Regions from separate parts of the Homo sapiens genome. Here regions 1 and 3 are each linked to region 2. A link means that fine-mapping ties the variant in region 2 to the expression of a gene that starts in the linked region. Tissue or cell type: cerebellum. Region 2 holds a variant in brackets; each other region holds the start of a gene. All regions are shown on one strand. Distances are from middle to middle.

Evidence for each region. PIP is the estimated chance that this variant, and not a neighbour inherited with it, causes the effect.
Region 1: it holds the start of SLC44A3, and the variant in region 2 is fine-mapped to the expression of SLC44A3 in cerebellum (GTEx, PIP above 0.99). The same link has a PIP of 0.9 or more in cerebellar hemisphere.
Region 3: CNN3 starts here. The variant in region 2 is fine-mapped to the expression of CNN3 in cerebellum (GTEx, PIP above 0.99). The same link has a PIP of 0.9 or more in cerebellar hemisphere.

Annotation. Positions count from the first base shown.
Region 1 is chr1:94,816,582-94,824,687 of GRCh38, reverse strand. SLC44A3 (solute carrier family 44 member 3) reads right to left here and starts at 4,331. Exons shown (of 15, transcript NM_001114106.3): 1 at 4,210-4,331; 2 at 3,632-3,739; 3 at 53-195. The coding sequence starts at 4,236. SLC44A3-AS1 (SLC44A3 antisense RNA 1) reads left to right here and starts at 4,456. Exons shown (of 6, transcript NR_160780.1): 1 at 4,456-4,732. RefSeq lists a silencer at 4,138-4,327.
Region 2 is chr1:94,851,637-94,859,742 of GRCh38, reverse strand. It overlaps SLC44A3 (solute carrier family 44 member 3), which reads right to left. Exons shown (of 15, transcript NM_001114106.3): 10 at 2,243-2,408. Among named protein-coding and RNA genes, the nearest start is that of SLC44A3, 35 kb to the right of the region's middle. The variant A/G (reference allele first, on the strand shown) is at 4,581.
Region 3 is chr1:94,922,574-94,930,679 of GRCh38, reverse strand. CNN3 (calponin 3) reads left to right here and starts at 3,570. Exons shown (of 7, transcript NM_001839.5): 1 at 3,570-3,842. The coding sequence starts at 3,786. CNN3-DT (CNN3 divergent transcript) reads right to left here and starts at 4,320. Exons shown (of 3, transcript NR_168377.1): 1 at 3,940-4,320. RefSeq lists silencers at 3,053-3,932, 4,033-4,462.

The sequences.
Region 1 (8,106 bases), 35 kb after region 2:
AAAGTTTTGAGGTACAGTTCCTTACAGACTGGGGACTTATTTAGATACTTACTTTTTTAGGGTCATGTCCTGCCCTGAAAGAGGGGCCCCTTCCACGGGGGAGTTCTTCTTGCCACACATGTTGCCAAAGCTGTCATAGCCAAAGAGGAGTCTTCCCGCGGCTCCAGCCACCACCGAGTAGCCCATGATAAACACCTGGCAAAAACGGGGGCATATGAGAGCCTGGCCAAAGGGCTGAGCGCACAGTGCCCCACACCCCTGCAGATGCTGATATAAAACGGAGCCTGGTGGAACGTGAAGCTCTCCAGCATCATAGCGCTTTGCTCCGTCAGTAACAGTGTCAGCAACTCCCATCTATCAGCATCCTGCTCCTCTGCTACTTATACATTTAGGTAGAGAGAGAATCTAATCCACTGAAACAGATTTCTCTCCATTTTCTTACCTCTGTGCTTTTTAACCTTTTCCTTAAGAGTCTATCATTTTTCTTTTTGGTCTAACTTTACTGGGACAATTCAATTTTTCTTCCCTTGATGTTCTTGCTTAATTTAACTGCTTCAGGGCTATGCTAATTCTTTCCCCAAGGTTTTTTTTTTTTCTACTACTTTTTTTGTTTTTCTTTTCTTACTTTTAAGGGATTCTGCAGAAGCAACACAGTTGATATGTACTGAAACACTGTTCACCAATCTGCAAATAGTGTTTTGGAGTAACTGCTTAAGACATACAAAATAAAGGACCACAGGAATTCTGTTGGACAAGAACATCTTGCAATCTATCATCATTTTTATCCACTCTCATAGTGAATGTGGAATATTTGAAATTTCAGTTCAAACAACTGTGCCATTAATACATACTGACAGGCTCTCTGCCAAGATTGAATATGTATCTTCCCATAATGCAAACTTAGTAAGTTTCCCAGTACTGTATGCAATATATAGGATACCATTTAATACTCTATATTGACAAGTTCATTCCAGGAGAACAGATATAATACACTATTCATTAATATATAGTATTGATACCTTATGCTGCAAAGGTACATTGTCCTAAATTCAAATACCTTCTAGACATTCTGCATTTATTACTAATTTAGAAATCAAAATAACAAACATTCTTCAAGTGCCCAGTGTGTTCTTGAGACTTTCTTACTGGGAGACACAGGAATGACCAGAACCTACTCCTTGCCTCCAGGAACCCAGCCTAGAAGGCAAGCAGGACTTACGGGCTGCAGACCTCCTGGGGAAGGAGGCTCCCTGTCCTTTCCCACTCTCCAAGATCCTCCTAAGTCTAACTGGTCAGATTCTAGAATGAATGGGTCACCTTTGCTAGTAGTGTGTGTCACTCACCCTTTACCTAAAGGCTGTGGAGTAGGTGTGACTCTGTTTGCCAATGTGGCTGGCATGGCAAGCTGACTGTGCCTTGACATGCTTGTCTCGTCCTTTCGAGTTGGAGTGTAGTAAGGTCTGGACTGTGTTTGGATTTAGAGGGAGGAAAGGGGTCATGTGCTTCTGCCCAGCTCACCAGTAATCTAATAACAAAGTGATGTTTTCCATTTACCATCATTCTTTCCTTTGGAAAGCCTGTGGTGAAGAATGGAAAGTTTTTCTGGGTGGGAGAGGTGGGAGTGGTTTCTGAGGATTCCTGAGTCCCTCCTAATAAAACTATGACTTTATGATTATTATTTTTTATGTTTTGTAGACACAGGGTCTTGCTTTATTGCCCAGGCTGGTCTTGAACTCCTGGCTTCAAGGGATCTTCCTGCCTCGGCCTTCCAAGAAACTACTACTATAAACCTTCATTGTCCTAATTTCAAACATGCAATTGCGATTCTATATGACAGGTGATATAGGAGGTGTGTACATTGGTCTAGTACATTGGCCACCAAGGTAGTCACTGTCAACCGTGCCTGCAAAATCAGGAAAATGGAATCTTGAGGGATGATAGGAAAAGGCAGGGCAGGAGAGGATACTGGAGGGGTAAGTAGAGGCAGAGATAGTCCAGACTTTGAGACTTTGTTCCTTATGTTTAATGCAAATATAAACACAGGCTGGTGCTGCATTTGCAAGAACCATCTCTGCTTATAATTTCAGCTCCTTCCCCCAAGCCTTTGTCCAGCCCTAACTCAGGGCACACCATCACCAGTCAGGACATCTGTCACAAGACCTGAAAGCTGAACAACAGAGGCAGAAAAAAAAGTCCAAAAACAAAACACTCCTTGCTCTGTTTTAAATACCTGCAAATAAAAAATGTTGCAAAAGACACTAAAAGCCAGTGAGCTAAGAAAGGACTCTGACTCTTAAAACAGAATGCCATAGTGAGAACTTGGATATATTAAAACTTCAGACTTATTTTGCAAATGAAATGTAATTTTAAAGCAGTTTCCAGCTCCGTGCCACCTCTCAGCTGGTTCACAATTCTTCAGGCTGTGATAGGTCATCTACAAAGATTTTCCCCAGGATTCTCAGCTGTTGGGCTGAGAGTTTGGTAGTGAGGTCCTAGGTTGAAGCTGTGGAGGGGCTACGGCAGATCATTAAATCACAATAACAGCTTGAGGTCAAAGCTGCCAGGCACAAGGCAGGCCAGCTGCTCCCTGCATTTATACAACAGCAGTCTCAGATAAAAACACCAACCATCTGCGAAGTTAAGCAGAAGGTATTGTAGGTGCACTGTCTCTCCCAGCTCCTAGGGGAGAGTTCCAACGTAAGCAACAAAAAACATCTGATTATGTGTTTCAGACCTAACCTTCCACTGTGCCTGTAACCAAGCCTGTCTATGTGAAACGGGTCATAAGTGAACAAATGCCTTTCTTACTTGGAAAGAACAAACATGATATTTTAGGGCCTATTCAGATGGAATTCTTTTCAACAAAGGTAATTACTATCTGGTAGTTATTACCCTGCTCTATAAATTAATCATTTACCATGCAGCAAATAGCATGCCTTATCCTGGCATGGATGATTTCGTGAAAGTGGCCTTTGAAAATGTCGGGTGAGACGTTTTCTGCTGTTACCTACAATTCTAAAATAAGTATAAAAGCAGCAAGATTCGGCTTCCAACAGACTCTCTCAGGATTATAACCGCATAGCCTGATGGAGTTTACCAGCAATCATACATACCTCGAAATTAGAGTGGGAAAAATCATTCCTTGTTAGCTATGGTTAACAGTGTTGGCTGCTAAACACAACATATCTCTCGCGCGCGTGTGTGTGTGATGTTCAGCTAAAGGAAATGCAGTTTATTTCTAGGCTTACCCTGGCTTTTCCTTTGTTAAAGGTGCACCAAAAGCTTGAGGAATATTTGATTTGGGGGTGTGGCAGGTGCTAAAAGAACTTCTGTTCAGTAAGTTCGGAGAGTAAAAGGAGACACATTGGCCTTACTAAATAGCAATCACATTGCAAACTGTTAATTCCCATTTCCTAATGGAGTCACCCCTTAGAACATGGCCTGTAGCAAAAAGACAGCCTTTCTAGCGAGTCTAGGACAAGAATTCTCCCGAGTACAAACTGATGTTTATTGTGGGTTAACGGCAGAAGTCTCTCACTGCAGCACCAACTACGATTTACATTTGGGACAGAGTTATTTCCAGACGTGCACACACACTCTGGCCTCTTTCCTACCAAGCACCCACACTTACCAAACCAGTCCAAAAGAGAAAGAACAGGAATAACCATGCCGTATCTGTGCATTTCCTATAAATCTGGGGTCGCCACTCCCTTTGCCTAGGGGCTCCTTCTGCAGAAACCTTCCAGAAAAAGGGAGAGTTGAGAAAAAGAAGATAAACAGGTGGACTCAACCTGGAAACCGAACCCAAATCTACTCGAAGAGGGGCCAAAGTAACCAATCTTTTTCTAAATTTTTAAAATTAATATTATTTTTTTACGTGGCCACCTGAAGCTCTTTCACACAGCCTTTGAAACACCTGCTCTGCGCGGAGCGGATGTTAAGCCCCCTGCCGCCAAGTGCTTACCTGGAGGTGCACCTGAGGACGACCCCAAGTTTGCGCCCCGCGGCCCGCGTCTCCCCCGCCTCCGCCCCAGCACTGGAGCAGGGTCCAGGTTCCTCCCCGCCAGGTGGCCCCAAGGTACTAAGCGGGGGCGGGATCCCCGAGGCGCGGGAAAGGCGGAAGCGTCCGGCAGGGAAGGTGCGTGAAGGCGGGGGACTCGACCCTTCCCCGGGGCTCCTCCCCCGAGGGCCGAGGCTGCGAGCGCTTACCAGGTACTCGGCGCCCAGGCAGTGCATCGTGCGCTCGCCGGCGGGGGCCGGTGACTGGGAGCCGCCGCCGCCTCCTGTACGCGGAGACGCAGCGCCCGCGAGCCGGGGCCGGGGCCGGGGCTGGGGCTGGGGCTGGGGCTGGAGCCGGGGCCGGGCCGGGGAGGGGCGGGCACGGTGCAGCGCCGCCTCCCGTTCGCCTCTGCGCCTGGCCCGGCGACTGCGGGCGCTGCGGTCCACTGGGTCCGCCTCTTCCCGGCATGGGTTTCTGCCCAGCTCACCCGCTGTCAGCTGGGGTCCTGCTCTGGTGGGAGGAAGAGGCTCAGACGCTTCCCTGCCCTCTCGCCTCAACCACCTCGAGGCAGCGGCTCCCAGGATGTGCACTTTGACGACTAAAGCTGAGCCGGCGCCGCCACGACCTTGGGCGGGTGGTCGGCCTCTGCCCTGAGCAGGAAGTAGAAAGTCTCAGCAGACCCTTCCTGAGGGCCGAGCAACAGTGTAGTGGCGTATTCCACATAGCAAACAGGTAAGCAGCATTTACTGTGTGCTGGATTCTGTTCTCACTGCTATTGTTATTCCTAATCTACGGAGGAGGGAAACTGAGGCACGGCCATTGGTGATGCAACTTGTTCGAGGAGACCCAGTAAGTTGTGGAGGCAGGAGTCGAACCCAGACACTCCGGGAGACCGGCGCTCTCGAGGTGGTTTACTCTGACTTCTCTCCCACCTTGCCTTAGGACAATCATTGCCTGACTTCGCAATTGAAATGGTAGTGTCCACTGAAGCGACTGGTGGCATAGTTTTCCAGGTAGTGTCAGACCAGCGCAAAAGCACTGTTGGGGTGAGGAATTTAAAAAACGAAAAACAAAAAAAACTGCAGGCCGACCTCCCCCCACCTCCTCTCAATCAAGCCTCTACCCTTCCCCCTGCCACCCTTAGGGTTGCTAGGTTAATTGCTTCCTTTAGGTGCTGCTTCTCCCTAAGGGTAGAAACCTGACTGGAGGAAAGATCTGGGTAAGTGGGAGAAACTGGGAATGATAGACAGTGGTTCTCTGGTGCCAGCGATTTCCTTCTGGGCTCACACCACCCTCCCACTGCAAACTCACTGGGCCTTCCTGGATGCATGTTTATCAGACAGAGTAGGTGAAACCCCAGGGGAACATGAATTCATAGGACAAAGAATTAGACACTGGAGGAGTGCAACTACTGTTAAAAGACCACAACTGAATAACATATGCCATCTGAAACTGATCAGTAGAGCAGATGGACCAAGATTTTTAAATAAGCATGATAAATTTATTTAAAATGAGTTATGATATTAGCAATATGAATCAGGAAAAAATATGAAACTAAAACATATTAAGCATAAAAATAATAATTAGAATGAATATTGATGCTACGTATTAGTAATGTGCAATAGTCTAAAAGATGCAGCTGACGATGAATTAGTAATTGGAAGAGCACTTTCAGCAAACCTCCAGAGGCAGTAGAAAATGTTTTAAAAAACAAGTTAGCTTATTTGTAAATTTTCTAGCTTATATCTAGGGTAAAACTAGAACAGAAAGGAAGAAATATAAAAACAGAGAAGGGGAAATATTTGAAGATATAATGGAGATAAATTTCAAGGTAGAAAAAAACCTTCAGATTGAAAAGGTTTATCTCAAGCAAAATGTTTCTATATGTAAGTATTTAAAAGCATAACTTTGAACTTATTTTCTATTAAGCCATATTGTCATTAGAATGTGAGAATGTATTAATAATAAAAATATTCTTATGAAAGATTCATTTGAATGACATTCTTGGAGGACATAATCAAGCAAGAAGAGAAACAAATTCAGGAGATGATACAATAGATATAGCATGAGAGTGGCCAAATATTTAGGCTGAATTTATTGTTGTGTTAGAAAAAAGACCAGGAACCACCCAAGTGTCCAGGAACTGGTGGGTGGCTATACATAACTGTGATGCATCTATACGATGAAATACAACTAAGCATTAAGAAGGAACAGACTTCTTACATATGCAAAAACATGGATGATCTCAAATGCATGTTAAGTGAAAAAAAGTCAGATATAATAAGCTACTCTATGATTCCATTTATGTGACATTCTGGAAAAGGCAGAAAATAGATCAATGGTTGTCAGGTGCTGGGGGTGAAGGGAATCTGGAGAAACTTTCTGAAGTGATGGAAATATTCCATTATCTTGAGAATGGTACTGATGACCCAGTGGTATCTGTTTGTCAAAATTTGTAGAACTGTACACTAGAAAAGGTGAATTTTATTGTATGTAAACTGTATTTCATTAAACCTGACTTACAAAAACTCTTTTCAAAAGTCTAAAAACAAAGAACAGTGTATTTATAATGATTCAGACCTAAAATTATAGACAATATCAATATTGTGAGGGGTGTGGGACTCAGGAATGAGAGGCCAAAATGATAGGACAGTGATCTAAAATAGTGCCATTCAAAGGGTGGTTCACAAAACTTAATTGTTCTCTAAGAGATAAGGAGCTTGTACCAGAATGCATATCAGCTATGTCATAAGCAAACTCTTTGATTCAGCTGACACTTTCGTAGCAAGACTTTCTCAATGAAGGAAGCTGTGTGTTGATTTACATGTGGGCTCAAATCTCATTCTGGAATGGATGAGATAAGTAACCCAGTACTACTTAGAGTACTTAGAGTAGTACTGGGTTAAATTACTATCATATGGGAGGAAGACGAAAAAAATTGTTAACTTTAATAAATCAATAGGGATAAATATTTGTGAATGTAGGTCTTAAGGGTAACTACCGTTAAAAAAGAATAAAACATGTAACTTTTAAAGCAGTGGAAGAAAATTTTATCAAATGAAAGGCAAGAGAGCAGAGGAAAAAGGAATAAAAAGAAAGTGCAATAATTAGAATATATGAAATTTGATAGCAGAAATAAAATTACTAATAATAATTTTTACTTTCAGTGTACCTAATATGTTCCAGATACTTTTCTGGGTGTTTCTTATTTGATCCTCATAATAACCTTATGAGGAAGGTACTATTACTTTCATCATCCTCATTTTATAGATGATGAAACTGAGATTAACTAACTTGCTAGAAAGTGGCAGAACCAAGGCCTGAACCCAGGTGGTCTGGATCTAGAACCCATACTTAGAACCATACTTAGAGCTATTCTATGCTGCCTCCTAAATAGAGCAGCAATTACAATAAATGTAAGTGGCTTAAACTAACCAATTAAGAAAAACAGTCTTTCAAATTGAATGAAAGCAAGGGATTCAGCAATATGTTTTCTACAAGAAACTTGTGTAAAACAGACACTAAAAGGTTAAAAGGCTTGAAAAGGATATAGTGCAAATGTGAACCAAAGAAAGCTCATGTAGTAATTTTAAAACCTGACAAAATAAAACTTAAGATAGAAAGTTCATAAGGGAGGTCATAAATGTGCCCAACAATACAGCTTTAATATTTATTAAGCAGCAGCTAACAGAAATTTAGGCAGAAACAGATAAATCAGAATTATAGTTGGAGATTTTTAACTGGCTCCTCTCAGTATCCAATAGATCAAGTAGACAGTAGATACTTCCTCTCCTCTCCCAACACACATACACACAGAAAGCAAATATACAAGGTCTGTACAATTTAATTAATAAACTTGAGCCATTAGATATTTATAACTCATATACGTTTCCATCAAACAGTGAATACATGTCCTTTCTCTTTTCAGGTACATGTGAAACATTAAAGTAAAAACATAAACTGTGTATTAGATCTTAAAGGGAGGCTCAATAAATTTCACAGTGCAATAAAATTAGAAGTAATGAATAACAGTATGTGTGGTGGACAGATTTTAAGGCCCCTATGATTTCCACCTCCTGGTGTTTACACCCTTATGTAGTTCCCTT
Region 2 (8,106 bases):
ACTCCCCCTGCTTTCAGTACAGAGACTTGCCCCCAGCCTCAGCTGTACCTGATACCCCAAGTCCAGGCCCTCTCTGCTTTCCCTCTCTGGAGAACAAATTTTCCTGTCTTCAGCTGGTGTGGAATTTGGGGGTCTAACTACTCCTGAGGAAGGCTTTCAGCTAATCTTTGGAAATACTTTTTATACTTGAATTCCTGAGCCTCTCTGGGATTCTGTGGCTCACTTCAGGCTGCATCTTATTTGTCCTCCTCATGCAGCCAACACACACGGACAGGCTGCTTCTGCTTTCTCCAGCGGGCTTAGGGCACTGCTCCACCTCCCTCTCTTTGGCTCTCACCATTTGGTTGGTGTTTCTTATCTGCTGTCATTGCCTCTCTGTTTCTTACTGTCCTGGTGTGTTTGTGCCTGTTTCAATCTTTCATGATTTTTTGAGTGGCTGGAGAAAGGGAAGAGATTAGGAGATAAATGCATATGCTTCACTGGAAGTCCAAATTAGAAGTCCTCATTGAAAATGCTTTGATTTTGTTATTCTAAGATAACACAAAATTACTGTCAGGCAAATATTACCTGCTGGCAAATTTGGTTAGAATACTCTCTTTGCTCCCCTACCTGGGAGGAAGCAATACACACAACCCACCCCCGGCTGCTTGGAGGTTCTCAATGCCAAGGGCAACAGCCCCTCTGTGAGTCCTCTGGAGTCTCTAATGATGGAGGCTCCGGAACTGCACCACTACATTAAAAACCCACAGTGGTGGCCGGGTGTCGTGGCTCATCCTGTAATTCCCAGCACTTTGGGAGGACTAGGCGGGTGGATCACAAGGTCAAGAGATCGAGACCATCCTGGCCAACATGGTGAAACCCCAGCTCTGCTAAAAATACAAAAATTAGCCAGGCGTGGTGGTGGGCGCCTGTAGTCCCAGCTACTCGGGAGACTGAGGCAGGAGAATCACTTGAACCCAGGAAGCAGAGGTTGCAGTGAGCCAAGATCGTGCCGCTACACTCCAGCCTGGGCGACAGAGCAAGACTCCGTCTCAATAAACAAACAAACAAACAAACAAACAAACAAACACCCGACAGTGCTCCTTATCATCAGGAGGAAACTGCTCAATGGCAGGAATCACCCCTGGCAGATAGTCTCTCCCAATGAAGCTCATGTTTCTCTCTCATTTGGTCTGAGAGGCTGGAGGAGGATCAGCCCTATGAAGAGTAAACTTCTCTTTCTGAGCCCAGTCCTGCCATTGCCCTGGCTGGGTTCCTCTGTCCTGAGGGCTCTCACTGCCCTGGGGTGAGTCACACACACAGAAGAGGTAAAGCGTTCAGGGGTGTGTGTGTTTGTGTGTGTCCTCAATTGCTTTCATGATGTGATAGGGATATAAGCAGAGAAGTGTGTAACTAATTCACTGGTTCTTAACTATAATATAAATTATATTTTGTAATTACATACAATTCCTTTAGGATTAATTTTTTTCCCCAAGCAAATGTTATCTGATTTTGCAGAGGACAAACTGAGGCTCACAGAATTTACTGAAGTATATTCAAAATAGACCAGTAATTTTTTTGTCTGAAGTCAATTAGGATGGATATTCATAGGGGAGTTCCACCCTTCCTTTTTTTAATATTAAAAGAATGGCAGCCAGGTGCGGTGGCTCACACCTGTAATCCCAGCACTTTGGGAGGCCGAGGCAGGCATATCACGAGGTCAAGAGATCAAGACCATCCTGGCCAACATGGTGAAACCCTGTCTCTACTAAAAATACAAAAATCAGCCGAGTGTGATGGCGCATGCCTTTAGTCCCAGCTACTTGGGAGGCTGAGGCAGAAGAATCGCTCGAACCCAGGAGGCGGAGCTTGCAGTGAGCCAAGATCGCGCCACTGCACTCCAGCCTGGATGACAGAGCAAGACTCCATCTCAAAAAAAAAAAAAAAAAAAAAAGGCTACTCCATAGGCAGAGCAGCCCCTTTTTATCTTTCAAGTCTAAGCAATATGATCTCTTTTCTGTTTGTCTTCTTTCTAAATTTTCTAGCTTAAAGTAAAAAGGTTGGAAATGTGACAGATTTAGGGTGTAATATTTCTTCTCACCACCAAATGAGAATACAGCCCAAATTTTAGCTTACTCTTTTATTCTTGCCAACTTCTTTTAAGGGGCTAGGTCAACATTCCCAAATATCTTTTGAGATATTAACATGAAGCACATAGATAAACCACATAGACAAACCAATAGAAAAAAAACACTGGACCTACCTGTTGAAATAACAAGTAACCACTGCCCCAGCTATAGTCATTTGCTGGCACGCAAGGATGAATTCACTAGTCCAGATGAGGCCAATTAAATGGTACGACCACATGTACCGAATGCCCGAAAGGGGCTTATATTCCACTTGGCCGCCTTCCATAACCTGGGCAGCTCCTAAAGTTTCAAACACAAACATGCTTTACACCAATGTTTTCCTAAGCATGAACCATGGTTCAACAAGCCATGTTTCTTTATGCTTGGCCTTTGGCATTACATAAAACAAATGCCAAAATCAAGTACCCACCATAATTTAAAATATACAAAAATCAAAATCAAAAACACACATTTAACTTCTAAATAACACCAACGGTGATAATTACAGTGACCATTGGTAGGCAATTTCCAAGACACCTGACATATGCTATAATACTCATCCCACTTTGTGGATGTGAAAACTGAGGTTTAGAAGAGGCAAGTAGGCTGGGTGTGGTGGCTCATGCCTGTAATCCCAGCACTTTTGGAGGCTGAGGTGGGCGGATCACCTGAGGTCAGGAGTTCAAGACCAGCCTGATCAACATGGTGAAAGTCCACCTCTACTAAAAATACAAAAATTAGCCAAGCATGGTCGCAGGCACCTGTAGTTCCAGCTATTCGGAAGGCTGAGACAGGAGAATCTCTTGAACCTGGGAGGCGAGGGTAGGAGTGAGCCGAGATCACGCCACTGCACTCCAGCCTGGGTGACAGAGCAAGATTCCAGTCTCCAAAAAAAAAGAAGAAGAAGAAGAGGCAAGTAACTTTTGTAAAGTCTCAGAGCTCAAAATTAGTAGAAGGAGAATATAAACCTAAACACATGGGACTCTAAAAATCCGTAGTTTTCCTACCATATGACTTTGTGATGCAAACCAAACTCAGCACGTTGATGAAACCACACAAAGCTTTTAGTATCACATTATAGAATCCTACTTCACCAAAAATTTAAACTTTATAAAAGAGACAAGGGTCTTTGTTATCTCAAAAGGATCTATTTCAGATTTCATTTCAAGAGCAAACTCTCTTAGCACATTTAAAATATCTACTGGGCCTCAGTGTTAACCTTCCCAGGTTCAGATCCCAGCTTTACCCCTTTGTGGGTAACCCTGGACAAGTTATTTGGCTTCCTGGAGTTTTAGATTCCTTATCTGGAATACCTGGAGGAGTTTTAGATTCCTTATCTAGAATACCTATTTCCTGGTGGTATTTTGAGCACGGAGTGAGAGTACTTGGAAAGTACTTGGTATAGTGCCCAACCCATAGACATATCGCGCCATAAGTGATAATGGTTTATTACTATCATTAAATTTCAGGAGCACAGTACTACTTTCAACTGAGGCCAGCAAGGTCACCGTAACAACTTTTTGCCATTCACGTGGCTATACCCTGCTTTCTTTTCTCTCCTCTAAAGAAGTCCTTGAATTAGCTCTGCTGGTAAATCCACTGGTAAATCCAAATTTACTCTGCTGGTAAATCCACTGGTAAATTCACTGGTAAATCCAAATCCCAGCTTTGTGGCTGCATATGATTTCTAGATCTTTTCCCACTATGGATTTTAAAACAACTACTACTGGGAAGAAGATGCATGCTCTGGTCTTTGGTGAAACCTATAGCTTGAAGAACATTTAGAGATTGTTTCATATTTCCTGCCATAGCTATAAATTGACTTTAGGCTCGTCATTCAGGAGTCCTTAGATATTCACAGTAGGGTCTGTGTGAAGGAAAGGGGAGGATATCCGTGCTGTAGATCAAAAACTGATTCCACTGACTAAGGCTGATCTTAATTCCCAAGCTCTATGTTCTGCTGAACAAGAATTACATTGTAAGAAACAGTGGAACAGCTTGATTTATAGAGAGGTTAATGTTTTATGAATGCTGGGCTCACTTTGGCTTGGAGGCAATCTCTGTTTTGGGTAAGGCATGGATAAATGCCTATGGTTTTCTAAGATGGGGTGATTCAGGGCATGCTTCAGGAAACATTCCCAATTCCAGAGGAGGTGGCCCCTCCCAAACAGAATGCCTGTTAGGTAGATGAGGTCAGTGGACTCTGAGAACCACTCTGGAATATGAGAAGTGCTCTGAGCCAGGGAAGAAGTACCTGCTCCTCCTACAAGGCCCAGCAGTATCAGCGACAGATTATGCTTTTGCAAAACTAGGTTTACAATATCACGAATAGTTTGCGGGCGGAGAATATTTCCACAGAACAGGAAGGATGATTTCTTCAGACAGACAAAGGTAAGTATGTCCTACAGGACCTGGACGCTAATGGGGGCCAGACTCTCCTCTCAGCTGCCCTGTGCTGTCAAGTGCACATAT[A/G]CGCACACCTCCCAACCTGGCACAGTCAGCGGTGGGAGCAGCTGAAGTGATGAGTCAAGATCCGCTTAGACATTATTTGGCATTCCCCCAAAGAATGGCATTTGGCACTCCCCAAAGAAGCAGAACCTGCAAGTTATTTTTGAGTGATCACTATTGTTTCTGAACATCCTTATCAAAGCCATCTTCTATTTGTTCCTGGGGCTGTTTAGGACTTTCCTTTAGGGCAGGGTTTCTCACCGACATTGTGGACCAGATCTTCGCTGGGGCTGGGGCTGGGGCTGGGGCTGTCCTGCGCACTGGAGGGTGTTAGCAACAAGCCTCGCCTCTCTACACAGATGCCAGGAAGCTCTCCCTCCCCTCCCACAGCCACGACAACCCAAAAATGTGTCCACACATTGCCAAATGCCATATCAGGGGCAAAAAGTCACCGGGGGGCGCGGGGGGCTTGAGAACCATTGGTTTAGACAAACGTTCAGGGGCGCTCTGGCTTCAGGGCGAAAGCCGGGAAACAGGTTGGATCTAGCTCGGAGTCTGCGGTTGCAGAGCCTGTGGGTGGGGTAGACGTGCTTAGGCACACATGACTGCCCTCTCCTGGATGGCTGTGTGAATGCAGGCAAGATCCCCTCATCACATGACAGTTGCTTTGTCTCTATGGACTGGGCACTACAGCTACTATCATGGGTAGCTAATGGGTGTTAATGGGAGGTAGACTATGGGTAGATCCCAAGATATGACAGATCTCAGGGGATGGTGGTGGGAAGAGCACTGAATTGTGAGAAGGCTTGGTTCCAGGCTCAGCTTTGAAATGTGTGACAAACAATGTGGGCCACAGCTCTCTGATGGTGAAGAAGAGAGTAGGCAAGATGAACTTGGGACAGTGATTACTGGCTTGGGCTTGAGAGTCACACAGGCTGAGAGTCACATCTCTGCACTGTCCCCTAAGCAACCTCCTGCAAATAGTGGGACTTTTTTTGAAATCTGCTTCATCACTTGAAATCGGAGAATGGTAATACCTACTTCTCACACCCTTGGTGATCTCGTCCTGTCTTGTGGCTTTTAGTGCAATACACATAGCTGTTATGAGTTAAGTATAATAAACAGGTAAGGCTCTTAGAATAGTAAGTGCAATAGGGTCAGCTACAGTGAGTGCCACACAGGGTTAGCTATAAATGAGATATAGGTAGATAGAATTCCAATTCTGAAATTAACTTAAACATTTATTGAGCATCTACTCCATGCTGGTATTATGCTGGACCTCAGCTATTAGGCGGAACAATAAATGAGGCAAAAAAAAAAAAAATCAGAGAGAGGATACCATCTGAGTTACTATCAGAAACTTACATGCTCCCATATTGGTCCATTTGTTTCCCCTTCTTCTGCCCAACTGTTTTATAAATTCCCCCTTCAACCTTCAAGAGCTTCCTTCCCATCCTCACTCTCAGCCCATGATCTTACCTCCTGTTTCACTGAGAAAACTGATGCAATCAGAAAACCTCTGCTAGTGCTGACCACCTCACACCTAACCTGCTATCAACACGGGTCCATAATCTGAGTCCTCTCCCAGAACATGATATTAATAAATGGCCCATGATCCTATGGCCACACTTCACCAGATCCCATTCTTTCTAACCTGTGTGAACATAACTCTTCAATAATTTTCACCCTCTTCATCAAAATCTTTCTCTCTATTGAATCATTCGCAACTATCTCCCATCTTTAAGAAAAATCTACTGTGGACTCTTTCCTCTTCCAGCTTCCTCTCCATTTCTGTTCCTTTTAACAGTGAAATTCCTCAAGATTGTCTATACTTACTCTTTCCAATTCTTTTCCTCCCACTTTCTCTTCACCTACTCCAATCATGATTATTCAGTGGTCAATCCTCAGTTCTTCCTTTAGCGGCAGCACTTGCCACACTGGACCGCGCACATCTCTGTGAAACCCTTCACCTGCATTCCAGGGCCCCACACTCCACCCCTTCTCCTTCGACCCACTGGTCACTCCCTTTCAGTCTTCTCTGTTTGTTCTCCCTCATCTCCCGGGCATCCTGAAGTGCCTCAAAGCACAGTCCTTGGATTTCTTCCCTTCTCTATCTACATTCATTCTAATCTCATGGTTTTAAATACTATTAATATGTTCCCAAGTTCCTAAATGTGAATCCCAGCCAGGACCTCCTCCACTAACTTCAGACTCAGATAGCTAACTGCCTACTTGACATCTCCATCTGGTGGTCTAAAAGACATTTCAATTAAAGCAACTAAAAATTAATTTCTGATCTACCCCTAAAATGCTATACTCAAATTCTTGCCCCATATATCAGTTTATGGCAAAGTTATCTTCCAGTTGCTCAGGCCAAAATCCCTCAGAGTCTTCTCCAACTCCTCTTTCTTTCATGTAACCAGAAAATCCAATTTGCTCTACCTTCAAAATAGATGCAGAATCTAATATGTCATGCCACTTCCAACATTATGACCTATTCCAAGCCACCATCCTCTTCTTACTGAATCACTGCTATTAAAATGTAGTCAGGTCAAGATTTTATTCTGCTTAAAATCCTGTAAAGACTTCTTCCCAATTCAGGTTAGAAGCCAAAGTTCCTACAAAGGCCAGAAAGGCCCCAGGATCTGACTGTGTGCACCCTGACTCCCCTCTGAACCAAGCTCTCCCTCGCCCACTCCACTCTCGCTGAATAGGCTTCCCTTGCTGTGCCCTAGAACTCCAGCCTCTTGCCAGCCTCTGTGCCTGGGATGTTTCCCCTTGCTTTAGATGGTCTTATGGCTCTGCACTCACCTACTTCAAATCTTTCTGCATCATCACCTTCTCAGTGAGGCACCCCTGATCGTCAAATTTAAAATGACACCCTGCCCCCTCATGCATTTCCTATTTGTCCTTTCTGCTTAATTTTTCTCCATGCCACTTATCAACTTTTAAAGTACTATAACATTGACTGACTTACTTTATTTAAAGCCTGTCTCCTTCTACCCTCCAAATTGGAAGAAAAGCTGTATCTCCAGCATTTTTAATAGGGTCTGACACACAGTAAATATTCAATAAATATTTGTTGATTGAATGAATGAATGGATATATCTTCCTCAAGTAATATATTCTATTAAAGAGATTTGGAGACAATTTTCTAGAGATCTTCCTTGAGAGCATCAAAATAATCTGAAAGATATTCATAGTGCAGTTAGCTGTAAGTCTGGATATTATTAGCAAGCTTTAAAGCATTTCAAAAGACTAAGGTGATATAATGATTGTTATAGATGGCAGTTCCTTATGGAAGGCAGTCCAGCTGGTCAGGATAATTCCCCAAGGGAAGCAGGCCTAATTTGGAGGGGTTCTACTTTCCAGCACATTCTGTGCACTTGGCCTTGTCCAGCAAACTGGCCCAAGAGTCCTGCCAGCCCCAGCCTGCTGACATTCATCCTGCCTGTGTCTCCCACTGGCTTCAGCTTCGGCTCTGGCAGCATGAGGATTAGGAAAAAAGAGAGGAAAATCTCATTGACAGGCAGCCTGCAATATATGAGTT
Region 3 (8,106 bases), 71 kb before region 2:
AAAGCATATGTCCATACAAAGACTTGTACATGAATGTTCATAGCAGCTTTATTTGCAATAGCCAAAATCTAGAAACAACCAAAATGTTCATCAATAAGGGAATGGGTAAAATCACTGGTGTATCCCTACAGTTGAATACTACTCAGTAATAAAAGGAATGAACTAATGATACATGCTACAACGTCAGTGAATCTCGTAATAATTTTGCTGAGTGAAAGAAGCCAGATAAAACAGAATATACAATGTGTGATTCCAATTATATAAAATTCTAGGAAATACAAATTAATGTATAGTTACATAAAGCATATCAGGGGTTGCCTGGTGGGGTGGAGAGGTAAGGAAGACTGGGAGGGAGGGGCTACATGAGGAAACTTTTGGGTATGATGAATATGTCCTTTGTCTGTTGTGGTGATGGGTTTTTAAATAGGTGTATCTATGTGTATATGTGTGTATCAAACTGAACACTTTAAATATACTTTGTTATATCAATATACTTCAATAAAGCTGTTAAAATTGTCCCAAATTTTAAGTTTTTCTCATTTGATTCTATAGTGCCACAGTAGGTAGTCAGACACAAGCAGAGCAGGAGAGGGCTCCCCGCTCCCACCAGGAATGTCACGCAACCATCAGGTGGTCAGGCAGTTGTTAAACTGTCTCTCTAAAATAATAACTGGTCACAGCCGGCACCAGGGAAAGGCAGTCTCCCAATGGCTAGAAAATACCTACAACTGGTGATCAGCAGCTTCTGGATAGGATCTTAGGAGTTGGCTGAGTGGGCTCACAGGTGTGAACTAAGAGGCAAAATGGTGGCATTTAACTGGTACTCATATATGACCTTCTTCTAGGAACACTTGACTAGTAAGCGAAGAATGCCTCAAGTGAGCATGCGTACAACCTCAGTTAACACACTGAGCATGTGGTCCCTCCCAAGTGCTGGCAGGCCACTGCACATGCAGACAGCCCACCTCAAGGGAAGAATCAGGGGAAAAGGGACACAACCCCCTGGAAGCATGCCAATGTATAAAACCCCAAGTCAAAGGTCAAGCAGCGCACTTGAATCTCTCAAGTTGCCCGCCTGGCCCTCTTCCAAGTGTACATTACTTCGTTTCATTCTTGCTCTAACTTTCACTCCTGCTCTAAAACGTGCCTTGGCCTCTCCCTCTGCCTTATGCCTCTCGGTAGAATTCTTTCTTTGGAGGAGGCAAGAATTGAGGTTGCTGCAGACCCATACAGATTTGCTGCTGCTAACACACTTTGGTGCATGAGACTCAGATACATTCCCTAGTGCTAACAACAGCATTACGTATTCTTACACAATGAGTTAAATTAGAAACGAAGGAAGTCTCTGGAGTACTGATGGAATCCAAGAGGACCAACAATATTTAAATAGTAAGTTCCAGTGGCAATGTCAGAAAGAACTTCAAGTACCTTAGGGAGGATAACAGTTGATCAAACAAACAAATGTAGAAAATTTCATGTTTACTTTAAAGTCACGTAAGTGTACAATGGCATTAAGTACATTTACAATGTTGTGTGACCACTGTCACTACCCATCTTCAAAACTTTTTCATCATCCAAAACTGAAATCCTGCACTCCTTAAAAAATAACTCCCCCTAAACAATAAAATTCATGGTTTTCAAGACAAAATACAATTCTTGAACATTTTACAATAAGCTAAAGTAGATTAAAATGACTTTGAGCATACAACAGGAGCAGTCAGGCTTAGATTGCTGCAAAAAGGCTTTGCAGGCTGGACACCATGATTTGTACCTCAAATCTGGCTGCTATTTCCCACACTCCTAGGTCCCAAAGAAATGTGGGTGAGGTCCTGCGGTTGACACACCGTCACTGTCATACTACTGGAAAAACAGCCCAAACTGTTAGCCTCAATGATATTGGGTCAATTGTGTCATCTTCGTGTGGGAAGAATGCCCTAATTATCATTACTCCCTTTGGACAAAATTAGCAAGTCATTTATAAATCATTTCACTTTCCTCCCTATTTGCCTCCTCCCGCTTCCTTCAGGTTCCATCCCTCAAAGTCATTGGGAAAAGCCTTGCAAACTGGATAGCAGTTTTGTGCATTTCCGGTTCAAGCTGCCTTACTCACTTTTTTTTTTTAATTTAAAAAAACTTTGGATTTTTTGTAGAGACAGGATCTTGCTATGTTGCCCAGGATGTTCCTGAACTCCAGGCCTCAAGCAATCCTCCCACCTCGGTCTCCCAAAGTGCTAGGATTACAGGCATGAGCCACCACACCTGGTTCACCTTACTCACTTCTATTCCAGGACGGTTCAACTATGATGTTTTGGCTCCTCTTCTCAAGCAGCTTTCCACACCTGGTTCCATGATCTCTTCTGGCACAGTAGCTGGTATTTGGCAAACATAGGTTTCATCCTGGGATCTCAGGGATTGAAATCTGTCCTAGGTGTGCACCAGAAAGTGGTGGCAAGAGATGAAGCTTCGGAGGAGGCTGACCTCGGCCAGGATTCTTAAGTCTCAAAGTTTCAGCTTTCTCACCCCTCAACGGACATGAAATCTACCTATTTGTAACTCCAGGGAAGTAAATGAGATAATGTTTGGAAGATATCTAGTCTACCAGCTGCTCAGGCGGGGGGCGAAGGTTCTGTTCCCTGTCCCTTCTCTATCAAATGGCTTTAAAATCAGAAGAAAGTATTACGGGTAGGAAATGGGACTGCGAAAAAAATGGAGGCTGATTCTGGCCTAAAGGATACTTATCTCTATACAAAGGGCTTCTGATTCAAAGAGGCCCCGGGATTCAAAAACACAAGCAGAGCTACACCACGTGGGGTTTGGGACGAGCTGAATTCCGGATAAAGATGCCTGTAAAGAGGAGTTGATGCGAATCCAGAAAAGCACTTGAAATGCCCAGGCTTTGCATGGCACATTCCCCAGGATTTTTTCGCACCGCATTTAGAGGTTTAGACGGAGTGAGCTCGAATCAGGCCAAAAGCCTTAGGTTACTCCTGGGCGGCAGCGGGGCAGAGGTCAGATCAACAGGTGTGGAAGGCTGCGAGGTGAGGGAAGAAGCAGGTGTCGGTGGAGGCCCCAGTTCCTCCGGCCCAGAGGCTCCAACGCTGCTATTGGTGTTCCAGCAGCGGGCGGAGGGGTCCTGCCCGGCATCTGGGCGCGCTGGGCCCAGAGCCCGGGAGGAGGCAGACGGAGGCGGCGGGTCAGCGGCGGGCCAGCCCCGGTGGGCTTCCGCTCCCCTCCGCCGGCCCGGTCCGGCCCGCCGCGGAGGATGCCTGGAGGTTGACGTGAATGGCCTGTGGCTGGGAAGCCCCCAGGCGCCCTGCCTAGCCCGGGGGCGGGGCCGCCTAGCCGCCGGCCCCGGTGGCGTGAGGGCTGGGGCGGGGGCCGGGGACCTCGCGGGGAGGGAGCGGGAGGGAAAGCGGCCCCCGCGGCCCTTCAATTGGCCGCACCGCCCCTCGGCGCAGAGGCGGGAGGAGGCGGCCCTCCATTGGTCGGGCCCGGCGGCCAATCCTCGAAGGCCCAGGCGGAGGCGGGGGCGGCCTGTGGGGAACCGAGGTGCGGGCGGCGAGCGAGGCAGCCGGGTGCTTCGCAGCGGAGCTCGAGGCTCTGTAGCACCCAGTTGGACCCAGTCGCCCAGGCACCGCCCGCGCCCCGCGGCCGTCTCCTGCGCCTCCCAGAGGAGGGAGTTCGAGCATCCCCCGCGGCGGCCACTCCTCGGGGCCAGGAGCGGGGAAGCGAAGTGCGAGAGACCCCGGACCCCAGCGCTGTCTCTTCCCGCCGCCCGAACCACCATGACCCACTTCAACAAGGGCCCTTCCTATGGGCTCTCGGCCGAAGTCAAGAACAAGGTACGCCTGGCTCGGGCGGGCGCGGGGGCCCCCGGGGCACCCTTGGGCTGGCCTGGCGCTGGGCCGTGCTTCGTTTGCTCTTCGCGCTGTGGCTCACCGTTTTCCTGGAGAGGGGCCGTCGAGGCGGCGCGAGCGTCTCTGCCTGTCCCGGTCGCGTCCAGTCCCCGGGCTTGCGGGGCCGGCTCCCGGGCACCCGCCTGGCTTTGTTCCCGCGCCGTGGGACAGGACTAGTGGCTGGCGGTGGGTTCCCGGGCGCCTGGAGTCCCGCGGCGCCAGCCTTTCCGGCTGCGGGGGTCTCGGGGGCCGTTTGGTGACTGCAGAACGCGCCCTCCGGGAAGGGGGCGCTCCTGCGTGGCCACTCGCCCTTAGGCGGAGCCCGTCTGCGCGGCCAGGGACCCGGCGAGCCGCTGCCGCAGCCCCCGCCATCTGCCCGGGCCCCGGGTGCTGGCGGACTCCGCGCCTCCCCACGGGGAGAGAGACCGCCTAATGTCCCGCCGACCCCAGGGGCCCCGAGGAACGGAAGCCGGTCCGGGACCCATCACAGTCTCCGATCTCGGTGCCTGGGAGGCATTTGGAGGCAGATTGCTGCTGCTGCTTCTGCTGTTGCTTTTGCGGGAAATGGAGACAAAGCCTGAGCGCGCCACTGTGCGAGTGATATCTGCTTAGGCTTGAGACTTTTTATGAAACACTGAGAAGTTTGAAGTACATTAGACTTTCACGACATAAAGGATTATTTTTGTGGGTTGCTTTTGTTTGGGGCTTGTTTGCTGAGGCGGCTTATAGTTTGGAGCGATTGGGATTTGGTGACGCTCAGCTTTGCCACTGAGCCCAAGAATGCGTTAGGTTTATCTTTAGGACTTTTGGCCTGGGAAAGAGATGAGAGGCGTCCCCCTCCCCAAATCCTCTCCTTCCTTCCTCCCTCCCTGCATTCCAAGCCCATGACATCAGGGGTTTCTGGGGGGAGAGACCAGCCAATCGGCGCGGAACTGTGCACAGAACGCTCATTGTCTCCTTTCTGCTGTTCTGGCCAAAGCGCCACAAAGGAGGGCTGCCTGTGGTTTAATTCCCATTAACCTCCCGGGAGCCCAAGCATGTCAGGATTGCCACCGCACCGTCCGACCGCTGGTGGAAGGCACTGGCATTGTCAGAGCTGGAACATCCCGGGGCTGCGGGGGTAGGCGGTGTGAAGCGAATTATGTAAAGAGGTAATGAAGCGCACCGTTGTCAAACCCCAAGGGAGAGTTGTGGCTCTTGTCTCCCGCTGTTAGTCTGCACATCATACTGTCTTTGAAGCAAGGAGTTGATTTTAGTCTATGTATCTAAAGTTGAAATGTTTAGGTCCTTTACCTTTTCAAACGTGTTGCCCGTATTAGACAACAGTTTGCTAACAATTTTTTTAGAGAGCAGAAAGGTGAATGGTTTGTGTATGATTGAGTGCAAACCTCACCAACTGAAAAGTTTGTAACAAGTTACTGTTTCCTTCCTTCCAGGATTTACAAACCGAACTTTAGGAAACTTCAGAGGAATGGGCATGTCCAAAATGTTGGATGTGATGTGATACTTTGGCCTGGTTGTGCACATTCATTGTAATTCCCCCCAGTGATTCTTGGCTGGCAGCAGTTGAGTCTCTACTACCTTTTGCATTGTAAATGAGGTACTGATAACGTTGGCAGCCCTTCAAGTGACTTACTTTTCTTGGATGTTAATAATATCCATGCTAATTTCTTTTTTGCTGACTAATGTAGCAGCTTTTGCCCTTTTCCTGCTTAATACTGAGCAGATCCAAGGAAATGCATACACAGGCTAGATCACTGTAATTATTGTAAATATTTAAAAACGGTAAAACCTCAGTTTTTAGAACCTTTGGAAAGTTAGTTATGAAAGCTGTGGATTTATCCCTTTAAGCACCAAACCCATTTTTTAATAACCCGTTTCATTTTTGTAGTCCTTTCAGACAGTATTCTTTCATAGGAAGTCTTTTGATCTTAACAGCAGAGCAGTCCTGTAAGGTGAGGAGGATTGCTGGGATTATCCAACATCATTTACAGATCAGTACACTGAAGCTCAGAAAGATTTGCTCAAGGTCACAGAAGTTGGACTATTCTAAGAATTTTAACTCTAAAAGCGATGTCTTAGTTGAGTGAAGTACTTAGGGATGTTCTACACAAACTCTGCTGTCTGTCGCCTTCCCCCCATTTTTTTTTCTTTCTTTTTTGAGACGGAGTCTTGCTCTGTCGCCCAGGCTGGAGTGCAGTGGCGCGATCTCAGCTCACTGCAACCTTCGCCTCCCAGGTTCAAGTGATTCTCCTGCCTCAGCGCCCCGAGTAGCTGGGATTACAGGTGCCTGCCACCATGCCCGGCTAATGTTTGTATTATTTAGTAGAGACAGGGTTTTGCCATGTTGGCCAGGCTGGTCTCCAACTCCTGACCTCAGGTGATTCCCCCTGCCTTGGCCTTCCAAAATGCTGGGATTACAGGCGTGAGCCATGGCGCCCAGCCCTTCCTCCCATTTTTGCTACCCACCTGTCACTTCTTGACATTGTGATTATTTATGTCATACTGTTTCTGATCTGTTCTGGGCCTGGGAATCAAATAGCCATGTTTGCTAGGCCTTTGTATGAGATGCTGCATTTTGACTGAGGCCTCAGGACTCCCGGGTGAAAGGTGGGTATATACAAAAGTGACATTGCGTGGTTTGACACCTTTTGATTCCTTCCTGCTTTTTCTTTATTGCATAATTGATACATTGCTTGAATGCTAGATTCCCCCCATCTACCCCCACATCTCATTTAACAAAGAAGTATAGAAACATCCTGGGGAGACAGTGTGGAGTGGACCTGGGAGTCTAGCATATGTGAGTTCTAGTCCCCGTTCTGCCACTTCCTGCCTTCTGTGATGCTGGGCTAGCTACTTGACATCTCTCTCCTAGCTTCTGTTCTGTAGAATGGGGGAAAACAATAGTTGCCACCCCCAGACACCATGTTGTGGAGATGTGTCTGGCTTATACTCAACTCAGTGACTGTATTGTAGCTATTAGCTCTTAGTAACAGAAAATTAGTTTTTAGTATTATATTTCTAAGATTTGTATGTCCCTGCCTCTTTAAGTATTTGGTTTGTATTAATACCTTTTGGTCTTGTTATATAATATTCTAGCTGTAAAAGCATTTCATCAATGAATTGAGGAAGTCTCTGATTTTAAATACTTTAATCAGTAAAATTTCAGAGAAAAATCTTTAAGACATTTGATTGGTAAGATGATAATACATGGCAGAACACACAAGCTTACTTTTTTTAATAGGCAAGAAGATGTGTGAAAACAGCCTTAAAAAAAAAAAGCCTAAGAATTCCAGTCTTTCAGCCTGGAATATGAACAAAGTTTCTTTAATAACAAAGAAAAAAATGACACCAAATGATCAATAACTTAGAGTTTACAAAAACTATCAGAGAGTAAAAGGGCCAGGGAAAATGCAGACACTGGTAGGGATGGTTCGGTGGAGGATGGAAACACTCATAAAATAATGGGCCCTACAGGTATTCTACAGGTTGAACCAGGCCCTTGAATGCATCTTGGGAACCAAAATGAAAAGTGAAACAACTCTGTGCCTCGTAAACCATGAAAAAACATAACAGGTACTCAAGGGAAGCACAGTATTTCCTGGCAAAATGTTGGAGTTGGGGGTAGTTTCCCGTAAAGTTGGATGGGAAGAGAGGACGCAGTGAAGCATGTCTTCATCAGGTTTAGAGCAAATGCCGCAGGAACCTTTCTTACAGGTCTCAGGGAAAGTGGAAAAAATAAATTGACAAATGGGGAGCTGAAATAATCTTACCTCGGTATGTTTTTTTGGGAGGAAGCTAACTGGAATATTAAGAAGCATGGAATTGGAATGCACATTCTTCCAGTCTTCTGCCCCCTTGGAATGTCTGATTTGAGCAAAGCAGCTTCCCACGGGATCTTCTTGATTACAAAATGGTATTTCTCAACACCTAAAAACCTTCTTGAAAGGCTTATTACCAAAATCTTTGGTTGTTGAAGTTAAACAATCATACAGTAATAATTAGATAGGACCAGTGTCCGCGAAGTCCTCCTAGCTTGTTTGCCGGGTGCGCTTTAGACGCACAGCTGCTCTGAGGGTACTTCTGATCAGAGTAACCCAGGGTGACCCAGCTATAAATTACACTCGAGGGTGGTTTGCCTTGTCTTGCTGGTAGAGCACCAGAATCTTGGTAAAAATGTGTTGGTGGGCTTAGCTTTTTTCTTTTTAAA